Linked DNA regions of Homo sapiens. The protein of the gene in region 5 interacts with the protein of the main gene of each other region in a biochemical or structural test. Each region holds a gene or a part of one and is shown on either strand. Other genes may lie near its edges. The genes, in order: PTPN3, RADIL, GRID2IP, ARHGEF12, RPS6KA1, ARHGEF11 and ARHGAP21.

Evidence for each region.
Region 1: the proteins of RPS6KA1 (region 5) and PTPN3 interact in a test that uses a peptide from one of them, tested with the Homo sapiens proteins (2 studies listed by BioGRID and IntAct).
Region 2: the proteins of RPS6KA1 (region 5) and RADIL interact in a test that uses a peptide from one of them, tested with the Homo sapiens proteins (one large-scale study listed by IntAct).
Region 3: the proteins of RPS6KA1 (region 5) and GRID2IP interact in a test that uses a peptide from one of them, tested with the Homo sapiens proteins (2 studies listed by BioGRID and IntAct, with this or other methods).
Region 4: the proteins of RPS6KA1 (region 5) and ARHGEF12 interact in a test that uses a peptide from one of them, tested with the Homo sapiens proteins (2 studies listed by BioGRID and IntAct, with this or other methods).
Region 6: the proteins of RPS6KA1 (region 5) and ARHGEF11 interact in a test that uses a peptide from one of them, tested with the Homo sapiens proteins (2 studies listed by BioGRID and IntAct).
Region 7: the proteins of RPS6KA1 (region 5) and ARHGAP21 interact in a test that uses a peptide from one of them, tested with the Homo sapiens proteins (one large-scale study listed by IntAct).

The regions. Positions count from the first base shown.
Region 1 is NC_000009.12:109,404,308-109,407,807, reverse strand, and holds part of PTPN3 (tyrosine-protein phosphatase non-receptor type 3), read left to right. Parts: intron 1-1,189; coding exon 1,190-1,346; intron 1,347-3,199; coding exon 3,200-3,360; intron 3,361-3,500.
Region 2 is NC_000007.14:4,835,217-4,838,716, reverse strand, and holds part of RADIL (ras-associating and dilute domain-containing protein), read left to right. Parts: intron 1-1,266; exon of another isoform or gene 1,267-1,329; intron 1,330-2,111; coding exon 2,112-2,359; intron 2,360-3,477; coding exon 3,478-3,500. UniProt on the Homo sapiens protein: Downstream effector of Rap required for cell adhesion and migration of neural crest precursors during development.
Region 3 is NC_000007.14:6,509,962-6,513,461, forward strand, and holds part of GRID2IP (delphilin), read right to left. Parts: intron 1,079-3,500; coding exon 947-1,078; intron 746-946; coding exon 648-745; intron 440-647; coding exon 322-439; intron 192-321; exon of another isoform or gene 55-191; intron 1-54.
Region 4 is NC_000011.10:120,482,913-120,486,412, forward strand, and holds part of ARHGEF12 (rho guanine nucleotide exchange factor 12), read left to right. Parts: intron 1-1,525; coding exon 1,526-1,595; intron 1,596-2,154; coding exon 2,155-2,165; 3' UTR 2,166-3,500. UniProt on the Homo sapiens protein: May play a role in the regulation of RhoA GTPase by guanine nucleotide-binding alpha-12 (GNA12) and alpha-13 (GNA13). Acts as guanine nucleotide exchange factor (GEF) for RhoA GTPase and may act as GTPase-activating protein (GAP) for GNA12 and GNA13.
Region 5 is NC_000001.11:26,567,761-26,571,260, reverse strand, and holds part of RPS6KA1 (ribosomal protein S6 kinase alpha-1), read right to left. Parts: intron 1-3,500. UniProt on the Homo sapiens protein: Serine/threonine-protein kinase that acts downstream of ERK (MAPK1/ERK2 and MAPK3/ERK1) signaling and mediates mitogenic and stress-induced activation of the transcription factors CREB1, ETV1/ER81 and NR4A1/NUR77, regulates translation through RPS6 and EIF4B phosphorylation, and mediates cellular proliferation, survival, and differentiation by modulating mTOR signaling and repressing pro-apoptotic function of BAD and DAPK1.
Region 6 is NC_000001.11:156,934,340-156,937,742, reverse strand, and holds the end of ARHGEF11 (rho guanine nucleotide exchange factor 11), read left to right. Parts: intron 1-246; coding exon 247-494; intron 495-737; coding exon 738-927; intron 928-1,498; exon of another isoform or gene 1,499-1,612; intron 1,613-1,684; coding exon 1,685-1,743; 3' UTR 1,744-2,903; downstream 2,904-3,403. UniProt on the Homo sapiens protein: May play a role in the regulation of RhoA GTPase by guanine nucleotide-binding alpha-12 (GNA12) and alpha-13 (GNA13). Acts as guanine nucleotide exchange factor (GEF) for RhoA GTPase and may act as GTPase-activating protein (GAP) for GNA12 and GNA13.
Region 7 is NC_000010.11:24,615,888-24,619,387, reverse strand, and holds part of ARHGAP21 (rho GTPase-activating protein 21), read left to right. Parts: intron 1-3,500. UniProt on the Homo sapiens protein: Functions as a GTPase-activating protein (GAP) for RHOA and CDC42. Downstream partner of ARF1 which may control Golgi apparatus structure and function. Also required for CTNNA1 recruitment to adherens junctions.

The DNA.
Region 1 (3,500 bases), on a different chromosome or scaffold from region 5:
GGGAGGCCGAGGAGGGTGAATCACTTGAGGCCAGGAGTTTGAGACCAACCTGCCTGGCCAACAGGGTGAAACCCATCTCTACAAAAAATACAAAAATTATCTGGGTGTGGTGGCACACAGGTGTGATCCCAGCTACTCAGGAGGCTGAGGCAGGAGAATTCCTTGAACCCAGGAGGCAGAGGTTGCAGTGAGCTGAGATCACGCCGCTGTACTCCAGCCTGAGCGACAGAGTGAGACTCTGTCTCAAAAATAAAATAAATTTATTTTATTGTTTTTAAAATAATATCAAGTAATTTTTTCGTTTAATTTTTTTATTGTGCATACTCAAGGTGTACAACATGATGTCTTGTTATACATATAGTACTGCAGTCAAACAAATTAACATGTTCATCACTTTCCATAGTTAACCTATTTTTCTTTTTTAAGAGACAGGGTCTCGCTCTTGCTCTGTCACCCAGGCTGGAATGCAGTGGTATGATCACTGCAGCCTCAAACTAGGCTCAAGCGATCCTCCTGCCTCTGCCTCCCAAGTCGCTGAGACCACAGGTGTGTCCCACCTCACCTGGCTCCATAGTTACCTTTTAATCATCTGCTTTTTTAAAGCAGTAGGAGTCACTGTGCCTCCTTACAGTGAACCACGTTGGGATTTTACTCTGAGGTAGTCCTTAAGCTCTTGTCATTTAACTTTTGTTACTGTTTACAGTTTCTGTAAATTCAGAAGGCTTTCTTTCCTGTGCTGTTCAATTCATTGCTTCTCTCCATAATGGTTTTTGCCTCTGTTGTGAAGCTTACAAAAGCTTTCACCTTTGCAAGACAGATAAATACTCACCTCTAGCTGGCAAATCATTTCCTAACAGTACATCTAGGAAACAAAAGGCTGGAAATGGTATAGTTATATTATAATAAGTGAAGGTTGACTACCACGGAGAAATGGCTTCAGCAATTTTTATATCCTTATTCTGAAATGTTTCATAACTTATATTCTGAGCAGTACTTCTTTATATCTTACAACCATCTACCATGTCCACATAGCAGTGGATGCATTATACAAATAATGACAGTACTACCCGAGGGAGAGAAGGCAAACTTGATCATGGTCCCAGGTGTCTGGGAGCAGAGCGAGTCAGCGTTCTTCCCCCAAGGACTGTGTTATGGTAACAGGAGAAACTCGCTTTTCCCCACCACCCAGGCGGACACCTGCATTCCTAAGCTGAACGAAGGGGATCAAATCGTGTTAATCAATGGCCGGGACATCTCAGAACACACGCATGACCAAGTGGTGATGTTCATCAAAGCCAGCCGGGAGTCCCACTCACGGGAGCTGGCCCTGGTGATCAGGAGGAGAGGTAATGGCCACCTGGGGGGAGGAGCCATAGGGAAGCTGTCCTAGCCAAGCTGCGCCTGCTCCAGCCCTTTATCTGCTCTTGAAAATGTTGAGTTTGTAGCCAACATTTGAAAATCAAGAATCTTCAGGTAATAACCGAATGTTTGGCTTCTCACTTGAAAAATGTGAAGATCTGCCCCCAGGAGGCCTGTCCCCATGTGGCCAGTCTTCTGGGGGGAGACAGCGCCCCTGCAGCCCCTTTATACAGGACATGAGCCCCCAGCTCCCAGTTCCTCCCAGGCCCAGCGCAGCCCACATCACGCACTCTCTAAGTGGCATGACTCTGCAGACATTTGCATTTTCAGCCCCTTCTTAAAGGATCTGGTGATATTTTATTCGTGCGTGTTTGATTTTGTCGGGGAGGCAGTGAGGAGAGCAGGGTCTGACTGTCTCGGGTGATTCCTCACTCTGCCTCTGCGGGCTGGGGGACCTTGCAGGGGTTACATAACCAGTCTGTGGTTCAGCTGGCTCAGGTGTGGAGGAGGACAGCAGTGGTCCCGACTTCACAGGGTTGCTGTGAAGATTAAATGGCACTTGGGGCCAGGCACAGTGGCTCACACCTGTAATCCCAGCACTTTGGAAGGCCAAGGTGGGTGTATCACTTGAGGTCAGGAGTTCAAGACCAGCTTGACCAACATGGTAAAACCTCATCTCTGCTAAAAATACAATAGCCAGGCATGGTGCCATGTGGGTATAGTCCCAGCTACTCAGGAGGCTGAGGCAGGAGAATCGCTTGAACCCAGGAAGTGGATGTTGCAGTGAGCTAAGACTGTGCCACTACACTCCAGCCTGGGTGACAGAGTGAGACTCCATCTCAATCATTCAATCAATCAATGGCACTTAGACTGGAAAGTACCTGCATTGCTGCCTGATGGGAGCAGAGGTTTGAAGGACAGCCTCTACTGAGCATCACACTGTTGTCTTTATAGTTGTTGTTATAAAATAATACGTCAAGTTCCTTGAACACCGTGCACAGCTGTAAAATACTGAAAGTAAATGAAGGTTGTGTCTGCAAAGCCCTGCGTCTCTGCCTGCCTCACACGTTTGGCTGACACTCCATACTGCTGTGCTCCTGCCTCGGCTCTGCTCCCACTGCAACTCTCAGTCCAGAGCCACCAGGACCAGCTCTGACCCCACCTCCTCCGTGAGGCCTTACCAGATCTCTCCGGTTCCCCACCTGTGCAAGGTTGGGAGTTGTGGGGGGGTGGTCCTAGCTTTGCTTTCACCTGTATTGAATTTAACATGAAGGGAAAACGTGCACTAAAGAGGTAAGGCTGAAGCACAGAAGAGATGCTAGGACTACGATATTTACGTGGGAGCCTCCCACATAGAAACGGCCCTGAGTTAGGGATTGAGCTCTCAGGAATGATGGTGTCACAGGAAAAGCTTGGGACCTCACCCTCATGCCTGAGGAAATGCCCATTTTAGGGAAGTAAATGAAAAAACCTGAGAAAGAAAGGGGAGTCGGGATGGGTAGAAGAATAACCCGGTCAGAAAGAGCAAGCAGAAACAATATGCTTTTTTAAATAACATTCTTTCTCTTTTCTTTACCTTTGACAAAAGCCTCTGAGTGTTAAACACCATTATTTAAAACTAACCAGGAAGATTAGTATGTCATTTTATGTAATTAACACATATTGAATCATTCACCTAGAAGTAGTATCTTTGGTGAAAATGATTACCATGTAGCTTAATCATTTAATAAGATGTTTTGAACCATCTGCATTCAGGTGTCATAGGTGTGATTTGTTTGAGGGAGACGGATAAACCTGAGTATTGCTACACAAGTCAGATGCACTGTCTTGTACGTTACAGCTGTCCGCTCATTTGCTGACTTCAAGTCTGAAGATGAACTGAACCAGCTTTTCCCCGAAGCCATTTTCCCCATGTGTCCGGAGGGTGGGGACACTTTGGAGGGATCCATGGCACAGCTAAAGAAGGGCCTCGAAAGCGGGACGGTGCTGATCCAGTTTGAGGTAAGACCCTCTGGAGGCTGAATCCCACTGCCATGTCGCCTATTGGGCTGCCCCTGCCTCTGAGCAGTGGAGGAAATGAGGCAGAGACACAAGCCCTTGTTTCCTTGGTCGAGATGATTGTGTGTTTCACAAACCAAAAG
Region 2 (3,500 bases), on a different chromosome or scaffold from region 5:
CCTCCGGCCCCTCGTTGGAGGCTGGCAGCCTGGCCCTTCTGCACACATGCAGGCCTACCCAGCACCAGGAAGGAGACCCTGGGAGTGGCCCCTGCGTGTCAGCATTGGTTCCGACCTGCAGAGAGCCCAGCCCTGGGCCTCAGGAGGCTGTGGAGCCTTGCCTGGAGGAGCAGGGTACACTCAGCTGCGAGCCACTTGCCTGGGGCTGCAGCCCCAGGGGACACAGGCCTGGGACATCCCGTGCCGCATTTGTGGCCAGGTCCTCTGGGAGCCCCTGGGACTCTAGGAGGAGAAGCAACCCTTCCTGCCCCATGGCCCTGGGACTTCCAGCAGGTCACTCTGAGGTCACCTCCTACAACCTGGCCCTGGATTTGGGAGAAAGTTGAGGGCCGGAGCATCATTTGGAGCTGTTTTTGTTCTTCTTTCGGATCTGGCCCCATAGTTGTGCAATGAGGCTGAGCTGTGGGGCTGGTAACGCTTGTGGGAGTGGCGGGTGGGATGAGGTAGGGGAACTGGGCCCCACCTGCTGGGCACCTGCCGCCTGCCAGGCTGGGCCGGGTTCTGCAGGCGGCAGGAGCACGGGTGGTGAGCAGCCCAGCCCAGCAGCCTCGCACTGCGGCTGGGCGGCCTCCCTCACGCCCTGGCCCCCTGCGGGCTGCAGATGCACAGGCTGCCGGCTGCCTTGGGAAGGACGGCGGGGCTGCTGGCGCTGGTAAGGGTCTTCCTCAGCCAGCTGACGCCTCCCTCCATCCGGCTTTTGTTTGGTTTTATTGGGAATGGTTGGAGGAAAGGCCGCCACAGATGGGGATGGATCTTAACCTGAAAGGCTGCGTACAGGGAACTCAGCAGAGGGCTCAGAAAAGACAGCGCCGGGTCAGCTGGGGACTGGTGAGCGGTTTTCATCTATCGCAGCCGGCTGGCTTTCCCAGAGCATGCATTTAGAGAGCGTGTCTGTATTTATGAGATATTAAGTCTTCTAAGGGTGTGTGTTATCTCTGAACTGTGCGCATGTTTGTGTGCATGTATGTGTTAATGTGTGTGGGTGCATGTGTGTTGGCGTGTGTGTATGTGTGTGCATGTGTGTTTTTGGGTGCATGTGTGTGCATGTGTGTGTGCATTTTTGTGTGGGTGCATGTGTATTTGTGGGCATGTGTATGCACACGTGTGTTTGTGTGTGTGCCTGCTTTGGCTTGGGGGTATCAGAGACAGCCTTGGGAAGGAGGCAGCGATGCTGTTGCAGGAGCAGGCCATCGGCAGCCCCATGGGCTGGGGTGATGTGGCACAGTGACACCTCCTCCTTGTAAAGTAGGGGCAGGATGCTGACCAGTCCGTCTCGTCTCGTCAGAGCACCACCCCCAGGGGAGTTTCGCCTGGTGCACAGATGGATGGGGCAGGGCTCTGGAGGCGGCGTGGTGACCCTGCAGAGGCCCAGGCTGCCGTGGGAAAACGTCTGTGGTTTGAGGCCTGTGGGCCGTGGTGCTGGCTGGTCGGGCAGGCCGCGGTGTGACCCTGGGCTGCTGCAGGGGAGGCGTGGTCCCCTCAGCCTGAGGATTTGACAGGCAGGCTGCCTGCTCTGAGACTGTTCTGTGGGTGCCACGGTGGTGCCAAGGCACTGTCTGGTTTTTCGAGGGGCGTGGCTAGAGGGCAGAGTCCTTGAGTCTCCACCAGACCTGTTTTGACAGAACAGTAACGGCATTAGGAGACGTGGCTTAGTGGGATTTGAACTCAGAAGGACCCGGGACATGGGCGCTATTAGACTTACCTGTTTTTTTTGGCGGGGGATGGAGTTTCGCTCTTGTCACCCAGGCTGGAGTGCAGTGGTGCAATCTCAGCTCACTGCCACCTCCGCCTCCTGGGTTTAAGCCATTCTCGTGCCTCAGCCTCCTGAGTAGCTGGGATTACAGATGCGCACCACCACGCCCAACTCATTTTTGTATTTTTAGTAGAAATGGGGTTTCACTGTGTTGGCCAGGCTGGTCTCGAGCTCCTGACCTCAGGCGATCCCCCCACCTCGGCCTCCCAAAGTGCTGGGATTACAGGGGTGAGCCACCGCGCCCAGTCCTGGTGCTATGAGACTTCTAACTGTTCACCTTGTGTTGCTTCTGTTCCAGGGATAAACGCCCAGGCCCGGAGGCTGCAGCGGAGTCGCGCGAAGGGAACCCCGACCCCGGCCCTGGGGGATGCCCGGAGCTCTCCTCCACCCCGGTTGCGCCGCACAGTCAGTGAGACCAGCCTGAGCCCAGTGAACGCCCTGCCCGCTGCCGCCCAGGGCCCCGAGGAGCCCGGCCCCGACGCCATGCGGTACTCGCTGTACCAGTCCCCGCATCTGCTCCTTCTGCAGGGCTACAGCCAGCAGCACGTGAGCCTCCCCTCCTGACACCCACTGCCCGGTGCCACTGCAGGGACAGCAGGCGGGACTCAGAAGTCAAGGCCTCCGCCTGCCTTTAGCCCAGTCGGCCGCGAGCTCTGTGGCTGCAGCCCCTCTGGCTGTGCCGAGGCTGTGGAGTGGGATGGCGGGGGCACATGTGGAGTCATCCACATTTTCCCTGTCCAGGCCACGGTGGGCGGCAGTGGGGGCTCCTCACTTCCCCAATCCCAGAGTGGGTGCCCTCAGCACCAGGCGCCTTCAGGGAGAACTCCTCACGCCTTCCCAGCCTTGGTCTCCCGCCTGGCTCTGGGGAAGGGCATGGGCAGTTGGCCAGGGCCAGTCTGCTTCCTGCTTCTGGCGAGGGGGCTGCTGAGTCACCAATTGGTGGCCACATTCTCTGAAGGGGCACCGAGCAAAGGCCCATGCCACCCCTATCTGCCCAGAGCCGTTTCTCACCACTTCCATCAGAGCAGGCAGGCTGTCGCCCCGAGCAAATGCCAGGCGCAGGGCCACCTCGCCTCACCTTGCCGGACACTTGCCCTGCCAGACAACTGTTTTCCCCGCCCCCTGCTCACCCTACCCCCGCCCTCCTGTGCAGCCAGCTCCTTTGCTGCTCATTTCCATGAGCACTTTACAGCCATAGGGCTCCTGTGCCCAGGTTTTAGGTGGCATCTTCCCTCGGGGCAGTGCTCTCACACAGGCGGCAGTGCTCCCACACTGGGGGTGGTGCTCCCACACAGGCGGCAGTGCTCCCACACAGTTTTGGGGATGACTTGGGGGAAGTTATGTAGTCCTTGGCCCGGTCTGTAGAACCAGTGCCTGTTTCCCGGCCAGCCCTGACCTGGCCTGTCGCTGTCTCAAAGCTGGGTGTCTCCTGGGTCTCTCGTGTGCTCCTCCGGGAAACCGACCTCCTCTGGGATGGGCCCGGACATCGAGGGGCGGGTTCCTGAGAGCCGTCGGGGTTCTGGTGTGGGGGTGGCCAGGGACATGGAGAGCCCGTGGCGACAGCATCCCAGCCACGCTGCTTCAGCAACCAGTGACTAGACACGGGACGCTTTTCCCGTGTGCTGCTCGCGTTACGCCTGCCCTGAGCGGAGTCTCTGTTTCAGGACAGCCTGGTGTATGTGCTCAA
Region 3 (3,500 bases), on a different chromosome or scaffold from region 5:
GGGACTACAGGCATATGCAACCATGCCCAGCTAATTTTGTATTTTTTTTGTTAGAGATGGGGCCTCACTATGTTGCCAGGCTGGTCTCAAACTCCTGGGCTCCATTGATCCTCCTGCCTCGGCCTCCCAAAGTGCTGGGATTACAGGCACGACCCACGGTACCCAGGCTACTTTCTTGATCCACAGCTGAGGTGAGGGTCACAGGGCCATGGGAGGGACTGGGACAACCCTGACCCTGATGGAGCAGAGAAGCAGCTCCAGGGCTGAGCCTGGGGTGGAGGGAAACACCCAGACAGTAGATGACAGAGGCTGGAGCCCTACCTGTGGTGACTGCTGGGCTGGGGCCTGGAGGGGAAGCCCGGGATTTGGACACGGTCCCCATCTTCCCTTTGAAGCTGCTGTTCAGTCGAGACTCAAGCTCTGCATAGACGGCTGACATCTGGAGGGAGACGGGGGAGAGTCCAGCCCATTCTGCTTCCCCTCGTAGCCCTAATGTGGTCCAGGCCTGGGTGGGCCGGGAGGCAGGGATATGCCCCAGCCTGAAGCAGCACAGGGACGCCTTGGCCTGGGTCTCCTGGGCCCAGTCCTATGGACCGTCCATTCCCTGCCCCCTACTGACCCCACGTGGAGGGCAGAGAAGGTCTCACCATCTTGGGGTTGGGGGTCTCAGGGAGGGACGTGCCGTCGCCTGCCTGGCGCTCGCCTGGGATCAGGGGAAGAGGCATCTCAGGGCACTCGCTGGGACCTACCGGGGAATAATGTCATTACCGTATCTGAGCTCTACGGCTCAGGCCCCGGCCCAGAACCAACATGCCCCGCAGACCCAGGAGGGCCAATCCTGAGCCCTGCTTAGCCCCATTCCCTGGGATTCCCCACCTCACCAAGCCCATTTTGCAGGTGGGAAAACTGAGCTCCATTCATACCCTCCCCCTGACACCAGCCTTACCGCAGCTGAGGCCGGCCTCCAGGCCCTGGGACCGGAGGCTGCGGCGGCACATGGAGGAAGCCCGCAGGGAGCTCCGCGGCTGGGGCTCAGGCGTGGGCTCGGACTCCAGGTCCAGCTCAGGCTCCGGCTCTGCTGTGGGACATGCAGGGAACATGGGGCCCTCTTGCCCTCTCAGCCAGACAAGGGACCTCCAAAACAGGGAGGGGAGGGCAGATGTCATCTGCACCAATATGCAGACCCCAAGCTACGGGGCCTGCCCTGCTTGCCTCCAGAACAGCTCTTGAGGGGAAGCCCCAGGGCAAGAAACCAGGTGCCAGGAGCAGCACCAGAATGCAGCACCAGAATGCAGCTAGCCTGAACTCAGGGGCCTAGCAGAGATCTCATGACAACAGCTTCCAGAGTCTCAACGCCCTGTGCTTGCCCCAGGCCAAGTCACTGCTGCCCAGAGAGGATTATGGGCAAAATAGAAGTGTTTTTTTTTTGAGACTGAGTTTTGCTCTTGTTGCCCAGGTGGGAGTGCAGTGGTGCAATCTCAGCTCACTGCAACCTCCACCTCCCAGGTTCAAGCGATTCTCCTGCCTCAGCCTCCCAAGTAGCTGGGATTACAGGTGTCCGTCACCATGCCTGGCTAATTTTTGTATTTTTAGTAGAGATATGGTTTCAACATGTGGGCTAGGCTGGTCTCAAGTTCCTGACCTCAGGTGATCCGCCTGCCTCGGCCTCCCAAAGTGCTGGGATTACAGGTGTGAGCCACTGCTCCCGGCCAAAATAGAAGTTTTTTGAGCCTACGCAGATATGTAAGGCATGTGTGGTCCAGCATGGATCCTGAGCTTCTCGCTAAAACCCTAGCAAATTGTGGGTCCCTGGGACTGCAGCTCATGGGCACACAAGGACCAGCAACTCTGCAGCGGCCCCTTCCCTTTCCTTCCTTTCCTTTCCTTCCTTCTCTTCCTTCTCTCACTTTCTCTCTTTCTCTCTTTTCTCTCTCTCTGTCTCTTTCTCTCTTTCTCTCTTTATTTATTCAGAGTCTGGCTTTCTCATCCAGGTTGGAGTGCAGTGGCACAATCTCAGCTCACTGCAACCTCCACCTCCCAGGTTCAAATGATTCTCGAGCCTCAGCTTCCCAAGTAGCTGGGACCACAGGCATGCACCACCATGCCTGGCTAAATTTTTGTATTTTTTTTTTTTAAGCAGAGATGGGGTTTCACCATATTGGACAGGCTGGTCTTCAACTCCTAACCTCAGGTGATCCACCTGCCTCAGCCTCTGAAAGTGCTGGGATTACAGATGTGAGCCACCACACCTGCCTTTTTTTCTTTTCTTCTTTTTTTTTTTTTTTTTTGTGACAGGTCTCACTCTGTCCCCCAGGCTGGAGTGCAATCAAGGCTCAGTGCAGCCTTGAATCCCAGGCTCAACAGATCCTCCTGCCTGAGCCTCCCCTGCAGCTGGGATTACAGGTGTGTGCCACCACACCCAGCTAATTTCAAATTTTTTTGCTATGTTGCCCAGGCTGGTCTCCAACTCCTGAGCTCAAGTGCTCCTCCCACCTCATCCTCCCAAGTAGCTGGGACTACAGGTGCATACCACCACGCCTGGCTAATTTTTTATTTTTTTTTTCTTTGAGATGGAGTCTCACCGTGTTGCCCAGGTTGGAGTGTAGTGGTGCGATCTCAGCTCACTGCAACCTCCGTCTCCCAGGTTCAAGCAATTCTCCTGCCTCAGCCTCCCGAGTAGTTGGAATTACAACTGCGTACCACCACACCTGGCTTATTTTTGTATTTTTAGTACAGATGAGGTTTCCCCATGTTGGCCAGGCTTGTCTCGAACTCCTGACCTCACGTGATTGGCCTGCCTCAGCTCCACAAAGTGCTGGGATTACAGACGTGAGTCACCGCGCACGGCCACCCCTGGCTGATTTTTAAATATTTTGAATATATGGGGGTCTTGTTGTGTTGCCCAAGCTGGACTTGGAACTCCTGACCTCAAGTGATCCACCCACCTCAGCCTACCAAAGTGCTGGGATTACAAGAGTGAACCACTGCACCTGCAGCGGCTTTCATAGCAGGTGCAGGATGCCTAGAACAGGGTAGAACACAGGCTTCGGCACACCTTCCATCCACATGACCTGCATGCTGAGTGCAGGGGTTTGTGGGCATTCGGAGGGCACGCTGAACAGACAGGTGGCAGCCACACATGGCACTGCAGGCCTGTGTGTGTGCAAGAAAGAGTACACTGGGAGCCCACCAGCCAGGTGGGATGTGGTCGTGTGCTCATGATCCTGGTGGTGGTGTTGGCATGTCTGGCAACCACGTGAGTTTCTTTCTTTTTTCTTTTTTTCTTTCCTTTTTTTTTTTCTGGAGGCAGTAGCTTGATCATAGCTCACTGCAGCCTTGATCTCCTGCACTCAAGCCATCTTCCCACCTCAGCCTCCTAAGTAGCCGGGACTACAGGTGTGCATCACACCTGGCTAAATTAAAACTTTTTTTTTTTTTGGTAGAGACAGGCTCTTGCTATGTTGCCCAGGCTAATCTTGAGCTCCTGAGCTCAAGTGATG
Region 4 (3,500 bases), on a different chromosome or scaffold from region 5:
TTTTCCCTCTTCATGTTACTTATTTTATGTAGTATCATTCTGTAGCTGATGAGATATCGACAAGCCCATTGAGGACAGGTCGGTTCTTATATACAGTCATGTGTTGCTTAGCAATGGGGATATATTCTGAGAAATTCATCATTAGGCATTTTTATCTTTGTGTGAACTTCACAGAGTGTACTTACACAAACCTAGATAGAATATATCTTTATTTACATAGATTTTTTCATATGGAAAGCCAAATCTCTCAACACTATTACTGAATATTAGTCATTTCCCCTACCTGATCAGCAATGCCATTATTAAGTGCCACACACCAGGTTTCTACATGTGCTCCATAATAATCTTTTTTTTTTTTTTTTTTTTTTGAGACAGTCTTGCTCTGTCACCCAGGCTGGAGTGCAGTGGCGCTATTTCGGCTCACTGCAACCTCTGCCTCCCAGGTTCAAGCGATTCTCCTGCCTTGGCCTCCCAAGGAGCTGGGACTACAGGCACCACCACCATGCCCAGATAAATTTTTTTTTTTTTTTAAATGGAGTCTCGGTCTGTCACCCAGGCTGGAGTGCAATGGTGCAATCTCGGCTCACCGCAACCTCCGCCTCCCGGGTTCAAGCGATTCTCCTGCCTCAGCTTCCTGAGTAGCTGGGATTACAGGTGCCCGCCACCACACCCAGCTAATTTTTTTCTATCTTTTAATTTATTTATGTATTTATATTTTTTGAGACAGAGTCTTGCTCTGTCGCCCAGGCTGGAGTGCAGTGGCATGATCTCTCCTCACTGCAAGCTCCACCTCCCAGGTTCACGCCATTCTCCTGCCTCAGCCTCCCCAGTAGCTGGGACTACAGGCGCCTGCCACCATGCCCGGCTAATTTTTTTTATTTTTAGTAGAGACGGGGTTTCACCATGTTAGCCTGGATGGTCTCGATCTCCTGACCTCGTGATCCGCCTGCCTCGGCCTCCCAAAGTGTTGGGATTACAGGCGTGAGCCACCGCGCCCAGTCCCAGCTAATTTTTATAATTTTAGTAGAGACAGGATTTCACCATGTTGGCCAGGCTGGTCTGGAACTCCTGACCTCAGGTGATCCACCTGCCTCGGCCTCCCAAAGTGCTGGGATTACAGGCGTGAGCCACCATGCCCCACCCATAATAATCTTAAGGGACCATCATCATGTATGCAGGCCGCCATGTCTTTATGTGCTGCATGACTATAGCTCATGCACATGATGACGGGACCATGTCCAGGGTGACTCCTGGGGGTGGGAGAATTGCATCTATGGTTACCACCTCTACTTTCTTTTTACATGGGAAAATACTAAGTTATTCCTTCAGTGGAGAAATTGGTAAAAGGAATGAAATTTACTTTTTTCTTCCCACTAATGAAATTTTTAATGATGAAGTTAATATTTTTGAAATTTGGGGGCTTGTACCTGTAATGTAAAAAGGGCTTCTTTTCTGTTTTCTGAAGTTTTTGTTTTGTTTTGTTTCATTACGTTTGAATAAAAAACCTATGGGTTTTATTTCACAGAAGGTGGAGGAAAGTTACACCATTCTTTGCCAAAGGCTGGCTGGATCAGCCCTCACAGACAAGCACTCAGGTATGTAAAAGTTATGAGTTCCAGACTCTAGACTAATCATCCTACACTGAATGAAATGACTTATCATACTTTGAAGTGAAAACCTTCTGAGATTCCATTTCTCTTCTGTCTTTAAAGAACTGCCTGTTTCTAAACATCAGATATCAAGCGGAAGCTCATGCCTGCTGACTCTACTCTTCTCTAAGAGGAACTGCAGTTGTCAGTTCCCATACCATCCCCTCTTCTCTCTCTTTTCACCTTTTCAAAGCAGAAGGCAGAGCAGTGGGAAGCCTGGTAAATCACAGATTCGGTGTGAGGCTTACTGGTACTGCTGTGACTCCCTAGTGTGGAGGATTTGGCCTTATTGGATGTTGGTGCACTTGCCTCTGCTGACAGTGTGGCTGGTGTCTCCCCTGACTGCAGATGGATTTGTGTTCCCTGCAGCAGTTTATACTCATCTGCTTACATACTGATTCAGAAACAAAGATTGAACCACGCCCACAGATGTCATGGGTATTCTTTGCAATGTTAGTATATTCTTTTTCTTAATATCATTTCCATGTATCTTTATTCTTCTCAGATAAAAGTTAGAGCCGCATGTCCTGGAGGTGACTGCAGGTTGTTGGATTTGGAGTATCGGCCGTGTCTCACCACATCCTGGCTCCAGTGTGGATGCAGAGAGAGTGTGACAGAGGATCTGCCTGTGAACCACCTGGGATTAGTCAAGTCCCAAGGTGCCCAGAGTGGGACTAGTTCTTCACAGTGTGGCAGCTGCACTAATCTGTTTGTGAGGGAATATCCATTCCCTCACTCTACTCTCCTCACTATCGGAAATTCATTTTGATTCAGAATAAAAACCAAATGTATAGAGCTTTGGGTGTAGGATATGAAATTGTACTTAGATTTAAGAAAAAGAGAAAATCAGATGTATTTATTTGACTTCATTCCGTATTTGAAAGCACATTTTAATTTTTATTTGCCTTGTTTTGTTTTAATTGAGTAGTGAGAGTTTTAGACCTTTGTCTTTAGTACACCCAAGGATCAACTGCTCCTGAAGCAAAGAGGTCAGGATGGAGTATGCAGAAGTTGGGTAGAGAGGTTAAGAAGAGGAGGAAGTGAGACGGGGAAGGGAGGAGCACCTTGCTTCACTATACAGTATTCCAAGCTCTCTGCTGTCCAGTAGGCTGCTTCTCTGAGGGTCACCTCAAAGGTATGCTATGCCGTGTGGCTCTTATGTGCCCAGGTGGTGTGGTCAGAGAGTGGATGGGCTTCCTCCCGCCCTGAGGCAAGCACCTCTTCTCTGTAGCTGGGATCAACCACAATTAATAGGAATCCTCAACATACTAAATAGCAGGCACTTGAAAATGGGTGTGTTTTCTTCCATTGTCGTCTTTTCTATTGAGGGTTGGGATTTGGGTGGGAGAGGAAAGCAAATTTTATTTTCTTGACTATAAATTTGTTATTCTTGGTATCATTTCATTTTTATAATTATACATTAGACATTGGCACTTGTGTAAAACTGTCCCTGCAGATTGAGCAGGAAGTAAAAACAAATGGAAATGCTTCGGATAGTGGCAGGGGTGGGGGTTGCTAAGGAAAGGGTGGGATGGGAGTGGGTAAAGAGTTTGGGAAGGTTATCTAACTGAATCACTACTGAGTTGAATCATGGCTATCATTAGCCACAGGTACTGCTGATTATAAGGCCAGTAAAATTTTAGTACCTGGAGGTTTGACTCTAATTTTTGCACTGATGGTGCCAAAGGGCCCTGAGTCAAAAGGATAGCCAAGGGTGGAGTGGAAAAAGATATGGTGAAGGCAGAACTGCTCACACCAGCTCCAGAAGCACGTCCTCTGACTTCACTGCCGCAGCTCTTTCCACACGGGGCCGTGATTGACCCTAAAAATTGCAGACCAGCACATACACTG
Region 5 (3,500 bases):
TCTACAGGTAGCTCTAAGTTAACCTGTCAAAACTGAACTCTCAATTCTCCCCTAAAACCTACTCATCACATAATCTTACCTTGTGGCAACTCCATCCTTCCTGTTACTTAGGTCAAAATCTTAAAAGTCTTTTTTTTTTGAGATGGAGTCTTCCTCTGTCACCCAGGCTGGAGTGCAGTGGCACGACCTCAGATCACTGCAGCCTCCGCCTCCCGGGTTCAAGCAATTCTCCTGCCTCAGCTCCCAAGTAGCTGGGATTACAGGCACCCGCCGCCATGGCTGGCTGATTTTTGTATTTTTAGTAGAGATGGGGTTTCACCATGTTGGTCAGGCTGGTCTCAAACTCCTGACCTCAAGTGATCTGCCTGCCTCGGCCTCCCAAAGTGCTGGGATTACAGGCGTGAGCCACCACGCCTGGCCCTATTTTCCTTATCTTTAAAATCAAAGAATACACTGCTTTACTTTTATCTGTAGCACTTCCCACTACTTAACATAATATTTAATTTGTTTTCTGAGTCTGCCCACCGGCATGTAAGCTCCCTGAGTGTTTTGCTCACTGCTGTATCCCAGCACTTAAACTAGCTCCTAGTACATGGCAGGTATTCAATAAATATCTGTTGAATGAATGGATGAATGACACTTACTGCTGAGGCCATAAGCAAACGGCTTTCCTCTGGGCCCTGTTTGCTCATCTGTAACTTGAGGGGGCTGAACCACCCCACATTTCATTCTTCTCCTCCCCACACTCTGTAAGGCTTTTTTGTTTTGTTTTGTTTTGAGACAGGGTCTGTGTTGCCCAGGCTGGAGTACAGCAGCATGATTCATGGCTCACTGCAGCCTCAATCTCTGAGCTCAAGTGATCCTCCCACCTCGACCTCGCAAGCAGCTGGGACTAGAGGCATGTGCCACCATACCCAGCTAATTTTTAAAACATTTTTTGCAGAGACAGGGTCTCGCTATGTTGCCCAGGCTGCTCTTGAACCCCTGGGCTCAAGTGATCCTCCTGCCTGGGCCTCTCAAAGTGCTGGGATTAAAGGTGTGAGTAACTGTGCCTGGCCTGTACAGTTCCATTCATAGTCAATCCTCTAACTATCAACTACCAATACCTCTCAGATCTCTAACCCTAGTCCAGAACTTTTCCTGAGTCTTGGCTCATAAATCCAACTGCCTACCACAAGGCAACCACTGGATGTTCCACAGAGCCTCAAACTCAACACATCCCACACTAAACTCCTCATGTTCTCATCTTCCTGCTCCTCCTCCCCTAAGCTAATGGAACCTCCCTGGGCATTGTCAAAAAACCTTCAAAGGCTCCCTACCTGCAAGATAAAGCCCAAAGTCCCTACCCTAACATGGGAGGCACAGCCATCATCTGTTCCAGCCTCACTGTCCATTGCATCCCTCAGGTGCCCTGAGCTCAGGCCACCAGGGGCTCCTTCGGTAACGATCATAACCCTATGTCTGTGGAATGCCCGTTCACCTTCAGCACCCAGTGCAGGGCCTAGCACAGAGCAAATGCTAAGTGAACTTTGTGCAATGAATGAACAAATCACACCTCTGAAACACAGAGACAGATACCTTGCAGGTTAGATTAGTAGAGTTTTGCAGGTTAGTTGGTTTTATTCAGATAGTCTTTTCATAGTCTCAGTTGATCTCCAAGCCCTCCAGCAATGCCCGTGGAGCCCGTGGAGTAGGTAGACATGGCCCAGCACAGTCCACCTCCATAGGGAGAAGAGTGCCAGGTAGATGAGGGGGAAAGGGCCACACTGTTAGGGTAGCCCCAGCAACACACTGTATCCAAGCCTTGGAGAAAGTCCCGTGGGCTCCCTCCTTCAAACACAATCGTATGCCCACAGCACAAGGCCAGGCCCCCAGGAATGTGGACTCTACCTAGAGGTCAGGGATGCTCAGCTTGGCTGAGGACACCAACTACCCTGCACAAGTGAACTTCCAGTTTACAAAGAATGTTACCAGTCGTGATCTCACTGGAGCCATCCACTGCACCTCGGCGGGTGGACAGGAATTATTAGCTCCATTTTACAGAGGAGAAAACCAAAGCTCTGAGAGGACAATTTTCTTTTTTTTTTTTTTGAGATGGAGTCTCGCCAGCAGCACAATCTTGGATCACTGCAACCTCCGTCTCCCAGGTTCAAGCAATTCTCATATCTCAGCTTCCCAGTTAGCTGGAATTACAGGTGTGCACCACCATGCCTGGCTAATTTTTGTATTATAGAAACAGGGTTTCACCCTGTTGGCTAGGCTGGTTTTAAACTCTGGCCTCAAGTGATCTTCCCACCTTGGCCTCCCAAAGTGCTGGGATTACAGGTGTGAGCCACTACGCCCAGCCTGAGAGGACAACTCACTTGCATGTAGGTTAGAGGCAGAGGCAAGACCAGAACCCAGTTCTGACCTGAATTCCATAGTCTTTCCAGTTTAGTGTGGCACACATGACACTACTGGGACACAGGGATATGGAAGTTGACCTTTTTTTTAAATTAATTTATTTTTCTGAGATGGAGTTTTGCTTTTGTTGCCCAGGCTGGAGTGCAATGGCGTGATCTCGGCTCAGTGCAACCTCTGCCTCCCAGGCTCAAGCAATTCTCCTGCCTCAGCCTCCCAAGGAGCTGGTATTACAGGCATCTGCTACCATGCCCAGCTAATTCTTTGTATTTTTAATAGAGATGGGGTTTCATCATGTTGGCCAGGCTGGTCTCGAACTGCTGACCTCAGGCAATCCACCTGCCTCAGCCTCCCAAAGTGCTGGGATTACAGGCGTGAGCCACCACGCCCGGCTCAAGTTGTTGATCTTTTTTCCTACCCTAATACAACATAGAGAAACTACAAATTCCTATAGGAAACTGTCTCACCACTGCCAGTGGCAGAATAGTAGGGATGGTGAGTGGGGGAGGGGAAGTACAGCTTTAAAAAGCCCCACAGGTGATTCTGATACCTGACCCTCAGGAGTGTATGTTGGGGGAGGAAAAGTATAGTCTCACATCTCACCGCATGGAAAATCACAACAGGCTGGGCAAGTAATGAGTGAAGCCAGGCAGAGTGGGAACCTCCAAGCAGTCCACAGAGGACAGCAGCTACCTGGCTCCAGCTGACAGTCACTACATAGCAACTCGGACCCAGTGTTTTTAAAAGCAGCCAAATTACCAAACCTTACTAAACCATACCTCAAATCAAAAAACACCCCTTATCTTGCAGGCCAAACAAAATATATGTGTAGGCCAAATGCAGGCACTGGAGCAATAGGCCGTGACCTCCAGGAGAGTTGGGATTCCAGTCACAGGAAGGAGTCGGGCAGGCCAGGGTGTGAATCCTGGCTTTACTATCCACTCACAGCTGTGTGGTTTTGGGCACGACATTTAACATCTGTAGCCCTCAGTTTCCTCACTTGTAAAATGGGGCTGATAATAGTATTCAACCCCAGGCTTATAGAGAAGGACAGGAATATTTAGCAAAGGGCTTGGGAAATGATGGACATCACAGTAACC
Region 6 (3,403 bases), about 130 Mb from region 5:
CTTGAGTTCATCGCTCAGCATCTCCCCCAGCTTGGGGCCAGACTGAGCAAGTGTCATCTAGAAGGTCTCGGGAGCAGGGCTTTTAGGGGGCTGGCAGACAGTGAGCAAGGCCCACGTTCTCTGAGTTTGTCTGGAGAGGACTGCCTGGCCTGCTCTGTCAGGTGGCTGGGGAATCCCACAGGAACGGGAGGATAGCTTCGACTTCTCTGTTTGCCTCCTGATCTCATTCTCTTACTGTGGGGACAGGGAACTGCTTTTATGTCAGCATGCCATCAGGACCCCCGGACTCAAGCACCGACCACTCAGAGGCACCCATGAGCCCCCCTCAGCCTGACAGCCTCCCTGCAGGGCAGACAGAGCCTCAGCCTCAGCTGCAGGGAGGCAACGATGATCCAAGACGCCCCAGCCGCTCTCCTCCAAGCCTGGCCCTCAGGGACGTGGGCATGATCTTCCATACCATTGAGCAGCTCACTCTCAAGCTCAACAGGCTCAAGGTGAGGGAAGCAGGGCTTGGGTCCCTGCAGGCCTTCAGTCCATCACCCCAAAACCATTCCCCATGAGTGAGATGTGTGTCTTCGCGGGAGCCCTAGATCCTGTCCTGGCCCAGGGATCTTCCCCCAGCCCGCCCAGCCACCCTTAAATCACACCCTCCTCCCCAAGGCCCAGCACAGACCCCTTCCCCAGGGGCCTTAGGAATAGAAGGACTCGAGCAGACATTCCCCCGCCGACTCTTCCAGGATATGGAGCTGGCCCACAGAGAGCTGCTCAAGTCCCTTGGGGGAGAGTCATCTGGTGGCACCACGCCTGTGGGCAGTTTCCACACAGAAGCAGCTAGATGGACAGATGGCTCCCTCTCACCTCCCGCTAAGGAGCCCCTAGCTTCTGACTCCAGGAACAGCCATGAACTGGGGCCCTGCCCTGAGGATGGTGAGTGAAGCCAGGTCCCTCTCGGTTCCTACCATTGGGGGAGAAGTCTGCCAACTCGTGAGGACACATCACTAAGCAGTGAGAGATGGTGGTTCTGAGAGTGGTTTCCCCTTGAGTGAAACGAGTTCATTCTCTCAGCTTCAGAGAGGGATCTTTTTAGGGAAGTCCCACAGAAGCTCCCTGGCAAAATGGGGAGCTTAGCACTGAGCCCTCTTTTTCCTTGTGCTATGGAGGTAACAAACCAGGAGGAGCCTGTTCTCACCTCTAAGACTTGTTCTTTTTTTAATTTTATATATATATATATATATATATATATATTTTTTTTTTTTTTTTTTCTATTTATTTGAGACAAGGGCTGGCCTGGCTATGTTGCCCAGGCTGGTCTCAAACTCCTGGGCCGAAGTGATCCACCCACCTCAGCCTCCAAAGCAGCTGGGATTGCAGGTGCACACCATGGTGTCGGCCTAAGACTCGTGCTGATTAAATGATTCAGAACCACACTGGGTGGGCCAGGGACACAGCTATGTCATAACTCAGGAAGACAAGGCACATACCTACCTGACCTAAGGGCTTTAGGCGCTGATGAAAGTGGAGTTCAGTAGACAGCCCTTTTCAAGCCCTACGAGAAACTGGGGTTTCTGGAGGAGAAGGAAGGTGATGAAGGATCTGTTCTCGTGAGCCTGAACTTTCTAGACAAAACATGTGGAAGCGGTCACCTCAGGCTGGCCAGTTCCTCACCTTCATCCTCCTCCCACAGGCTCTGACGCCCCCCTGGAAGACAGCACAGCAGACGCAGCCGCGTCACCAGGACCATAACCGTACAAACCACCAAATCCTCTGCGTCCCCACTCCTCCTTCAGGGACTGGCCTGAGACCGGGGCACAGGGTAGGGGGGATCCCAACACTCCTCCCTGTGGAGGAGGCAGTTAGGGAAACTAGGATCCAGCCAAGGCCCGGGGGGAGACCCGCATGTTGCTTGGTCTGCTCAAGTCGGAGTCAGGTTTCAGTGTCTTTTCCCTCCCTTAGCCCAACCCTCCAAGGCCTCATGTCTCCTAAGCATGCTGACTGCATCCGAAAGGCCCCCACTCACCATGGTCTGCCCTCACCCCACATATGTGTGTACACGCGCACGCCTGTATGTGCGCTGCCCTCAGACATGCAAGTGAAAGGAGGAGGCTTCTGTGTAAATGCACTTTCTTCCTCCCCTCTTTCTCCATAAGACCCCAGGCAGAGGTGGGTGCCTCCCCTCCCCTCTTTGTCACTTTGGTTTCCTATAAATATGTATGTATCGTATGTGCATCTTTGCTATTGTAAATAACTTTGACCTTTTTTGTTCCTGTTCCTGAAGTGCTGGAGGCAGTTATGGAAGGAGCTGCTTAGGGAAGAGGGGTTTCACTTGTATCTCCTTAGTTAACAACCCAGTTCCAGGATCGAGCCTAAAGCGGGAGCCAGGCCTGAGTGTTCCTGTCCCTGTGAGTGGGAAGGTCTTCTGGCTCCCCATCCCACCTGGCTCCAGAGCCTGCCCTCCACAGCTTGCTGCCAAGCTACTCCCTCCCTCCCTGGACTTCTCATCTTCACAAGATGGGGATCATGGGGGTTTCTTACCCCACCTATGTCCCCCTCTTCCCCACCCTGTCCCTGTAGAAAACCAGTGAAGCAGGTACGGAGCTGAGGACTGGGCCCCAGGAGGTGGGGACAGGGGTCTGAATGCCGAGTCCCTGAATTCACCCAGGACCATCCAAGGGGCCACCGCAGCATTGGCCCCATCACCACGTCCTCACCCAACTCTCCCTGATGAATAGAATATACACACTGTGCTAGGTGTATATATACATATATATATATATAAATATATATATAATATATAAAATATAGATATGGAAATGACTGTTCTGCTGTTAAGATAATGTATACTCTTTTATTTTCTTCCTTTCATGGTTAAGATTTTTTTTTTAAGAAAAGTTAAATATCCTTCAGTGGTGGTGTGTGTGTTTCTTGGAATCGCTGTGATAAAAGGTACGGTGTTTGTTCCCTGTAAGACTGGTTAGGATTGGATAGTGGGAACCAGAGGGAGCCCTCTCACCCCCAGACCCAGATCTTGCCTGTTCCCTCCCAGAGCTTCAGCTGTGCACTCACTGAACTAGGGACTGGGCAAACTTAAGTTGTACAACCCCCATGGAGAAAACATGACAAGACACTGAACTCAGTTACACACACACAGATATATATATAGATACATATATATACACACATATATAGATATACACACACACACACATATATATACACATATATGTGTATATAAAGGAGCAGTGGACCCAGAGTCAAGAGGTCTCATGAGCTGCCCTCAATGAGCTTGAAGACTTTAAAAGCCAAATCTAAGTGGGAGGGTTGCCTCAGGCCTGGCCAGTTCATCACTGTCATCATCCATCCACATCCTCCCACAGACGCAGCCACATCACCAAGACTGTAACCA
Region 7 (3,500 bases), on a different chromosome or scaffold from region 5:
AGAAGTCTTACACTGTGATTTTAAAATGTTTCTAGTGAATCTCATAAGCTGTGCTTCAACCAGAGCTTTCACAAACCTCTTTAAAAGTTATTTCTAGTACCAATTTTCCTTTTTTTAAAAAAAAAACAAAAACTTCATGTACCTAGTACCCATTTCAAATTTTTATTTTGATGAAACAAATTCCTGAGATTAAGGAAATCAGCGAAGCAAATTATACCTAATTGTTGATTCAGGTGAATGAAAAACCAAGTGGAACAGTTTTGATAATTAGTTACCAACCTTTCATTTAAACAGTGCTTTTACTTTCTAAAACATATTTCTTTGTAAATTTAACGTGTACTGAGAGAAAAGACCTCTTCATTGTCAAGTTAGTTTGCCATACTATAAATCCTGGAACAGATTTAGAGAAGTTACTTAAATTATAAGCGTGTGCCACAGTTGCCGGCACCTGTCCTGTTGAGTCTTCTGTCTGCTCCCTCCCACCCCAGATCTGTTCTCCATACAGCAGCCAGTGTGATGTTTTTAAAAATGTCAATTAGATCACACCACTCCTCTGTGCAGAACCCTCTGTTTCCTTCCCATTCATCTCACCCAAAATAGCATGCAAAATCCTCCCGTGATCTGAAAGGCCCTCCATGGTCTGCCTCACAACTCCCTCTCTGATGGTGTCAGAGAGATCCTACTTCGTGATCTCCTATCACAATCTTCCATGTGCATCCCATCTGCAGCCTCACCAGCCTCCTTGCTGTCAGGTGTGTGTTGCTACAGGGACAGGTACAGCTGGTTTCTAACCCTGGTATACATTCCACAGATAGTTAACAAGCCTCTGTCTTCCTCATGACATTTGGGTCTCTGCTCAAAGATCTTATCCAAGCAGGCTTTGTGACTCACCTATCTAAAACAGGTATCCCACGCACAGACACAGAAACGGACATTCTCTTCCCTTAAGCTTTTTTATTTATCTTCGTATTACTGTTTCCACTTGACATGTTTTGTTTTTTTGTTACATGTTTCTCAGTAGAACTAAAACATAAACTACATGAGAGCAGAGATTTAAAATCTTTGGTTCACTTTTGTGTCCCTAATGCCTAGAACACTGCGTGGCACATAAAGAATTCACTCAGTAAGTATTTGTTGAGATAATGGCTGAAAGACAATTTTGAAATGCTGGTTAAATGTATAGCACAACAATACAGTTCTCATCATGACTGTGCAGCTCTAAAACATCATCTGCTAACAGGTGATGACTTATGTCCTTAATATTATCTTCATTTTATAAGTGAGAAATTTAAGGTATAGAGAGGCTAAATAACATCTCTAAAATCGCATAGTAAGTGATAAGAGACAGGGTCTCTAGGTTTGCCTCATTCAGCCTCGTCCCAGAGCACAGCTCCAGGGAGCACGCCATTTATATGGAATGCCTGTGAAGAGCGCCCCCTGGAGGCATGCGATGCAGGGGCTTTTTTCCTTCTCTTTTTGCCACCAACCAAGGCCATACTTGTAGTCCCCCTGGTGTCCCATGGGTTTATGAAAAGAGTTCTCCATCATTTTACAATATAATATGCTTCTCTTTGAGTACTAGTTGAGTTTTTCTTTTCTACGGGAACATTTTTAAAGCTGTTGAGGACTGTTGTTTCTTTTCTACGGAAACATTTTTAAAGCTATCAATTGTAAAGCTATTGATAGCTTTAAAAATGTTTCTTGAGAAAACACTTAATTGGATAGGTGACACTAAAAGCTTTTTTAAAAAGTTCCACACAGCTTATGTTTTTTTTTATAAATCGGATATATTCAAGTTGTCAACATTGTGGGGAATCTCAACCTAAATTGTACCCATATTCATATCTATACCCCTAAGGCCAAGCTCAGCAAATAGTAGACTCCTGTTGTAGATGGAATCTTATACATCATCTAGAATAGATATTTTATAGAAGGCAACTGATGACGAATGATTGTTTTATGAAGTTTTAAAATGTAAAAAAATCTTACAACCTGTGGCTGTTTCACAGGCCCATGCGATCTTATCAGAACAGTGGCATCATATTTTCTTCCTACATAATAACAACAATATAATCAGATTACATTGGAGTAGTAAAAAAATGTGCTGGATATATCTGTTAATATTTCTTCCTAGTTATGAAGTATAGAAATAAAACAATTATGTTATTAAAGAGAAGATTTTGGCTAAAATAGAAAATAAAGATCTGTATAATTCTATATACATATAGATTGATGTAAATAAATAATTTTATTTACTAAGAATAAAAGTACTCTCTAATTAGTTCCTATCTTATTTGACTTTCGCCCTCCTTCCCCCGCTGCTCACCTTCTGCTGTGCGGCCCAGCTCCTAACCGGCCATGGACCAGTACCAGTCTGCAGCGCAGGAGTTGAGGACCCCTGCTATATACTAAGGTTGCAGGAGGCATACAGGCATACAAAACAAAATGAATACATTTTGTTTTTAAATTTGGAATATTACTCATTAACAGTATTTTGTTTACTGTTCCCACCCCCCACTTTATAAAGCTGCATAGTAAGTCCTGAAAATAAATTTCAACTTCTTTTATAAGTAAACACAAACCTCAACAATGTGAGCTGTTCATGAGTAATCTCACGGTGAATAGCAGATATTACAATGTGTTCTAAAATCCTGACTTCCTACACTTCTCTAATTTATACCACTCATTACTAGTAATACAAAAATGCTACGACTGTTACCTACACTCAGGGTTTCATCTTAACTTTCTTTCTCCATAGTTTTGTCATATCTCTTAAGACTCCTCCTCCATCTTACCCCAACATTGGCTGCGTGTGTGCTCAGTTGAGGGTTAGCCCTAAGTTAAATTGAATTTGATGGTCACAGCCTTATTGGCACTGCCATATCAAGATGATTTAGAAGTGTTAGATTTGGTAAGATATAGCTGGATTACATTGTCCATACAGGGGAACTTAGCTCCCTGAAATTTACCCAAAGGGAAGAGGTGACCATTCCCTATACCCAGTTTCTCCCTTTGGGAGCTCTGGGCTCAGTGCCAGTGGTGATATGACAGGACGATGCAATGAGCACCCAGCCCTTCTTTAATACTAATTCAGGCTGAGTCTTAGCAAATAGTCTGTTTATAAAGAGAAATCATATACTTTATCATCTTACATCTTTTATAAAGAGAAATCATGTACTTATCATCTTTATATGTCTTTTTCATATATTGGCTTTTCCCAAAAATGTGATGCCATTGGTACTTAAGCTTAGAGATTTTTGCTTCCACTATTTGAGTAACGATGTGAGGTAATTTAAAAAATAATAAAATAGTCCGGGTGCAGTGGCTTGCGCCCGTAATCCCAGCACTTTGGGAGGCTGAGGCAGTCAGATCACTTGAGGTTGGGAGTTCAAGACCAGCCTGGCCAACACAGTGAAACTCCATCTCTACAAAAAAAAATACAAAAATATTAGCTGGGCGTGGTGGGGTGCCTGTGAGCCCAGCTACTTGGGAGGCGGAGG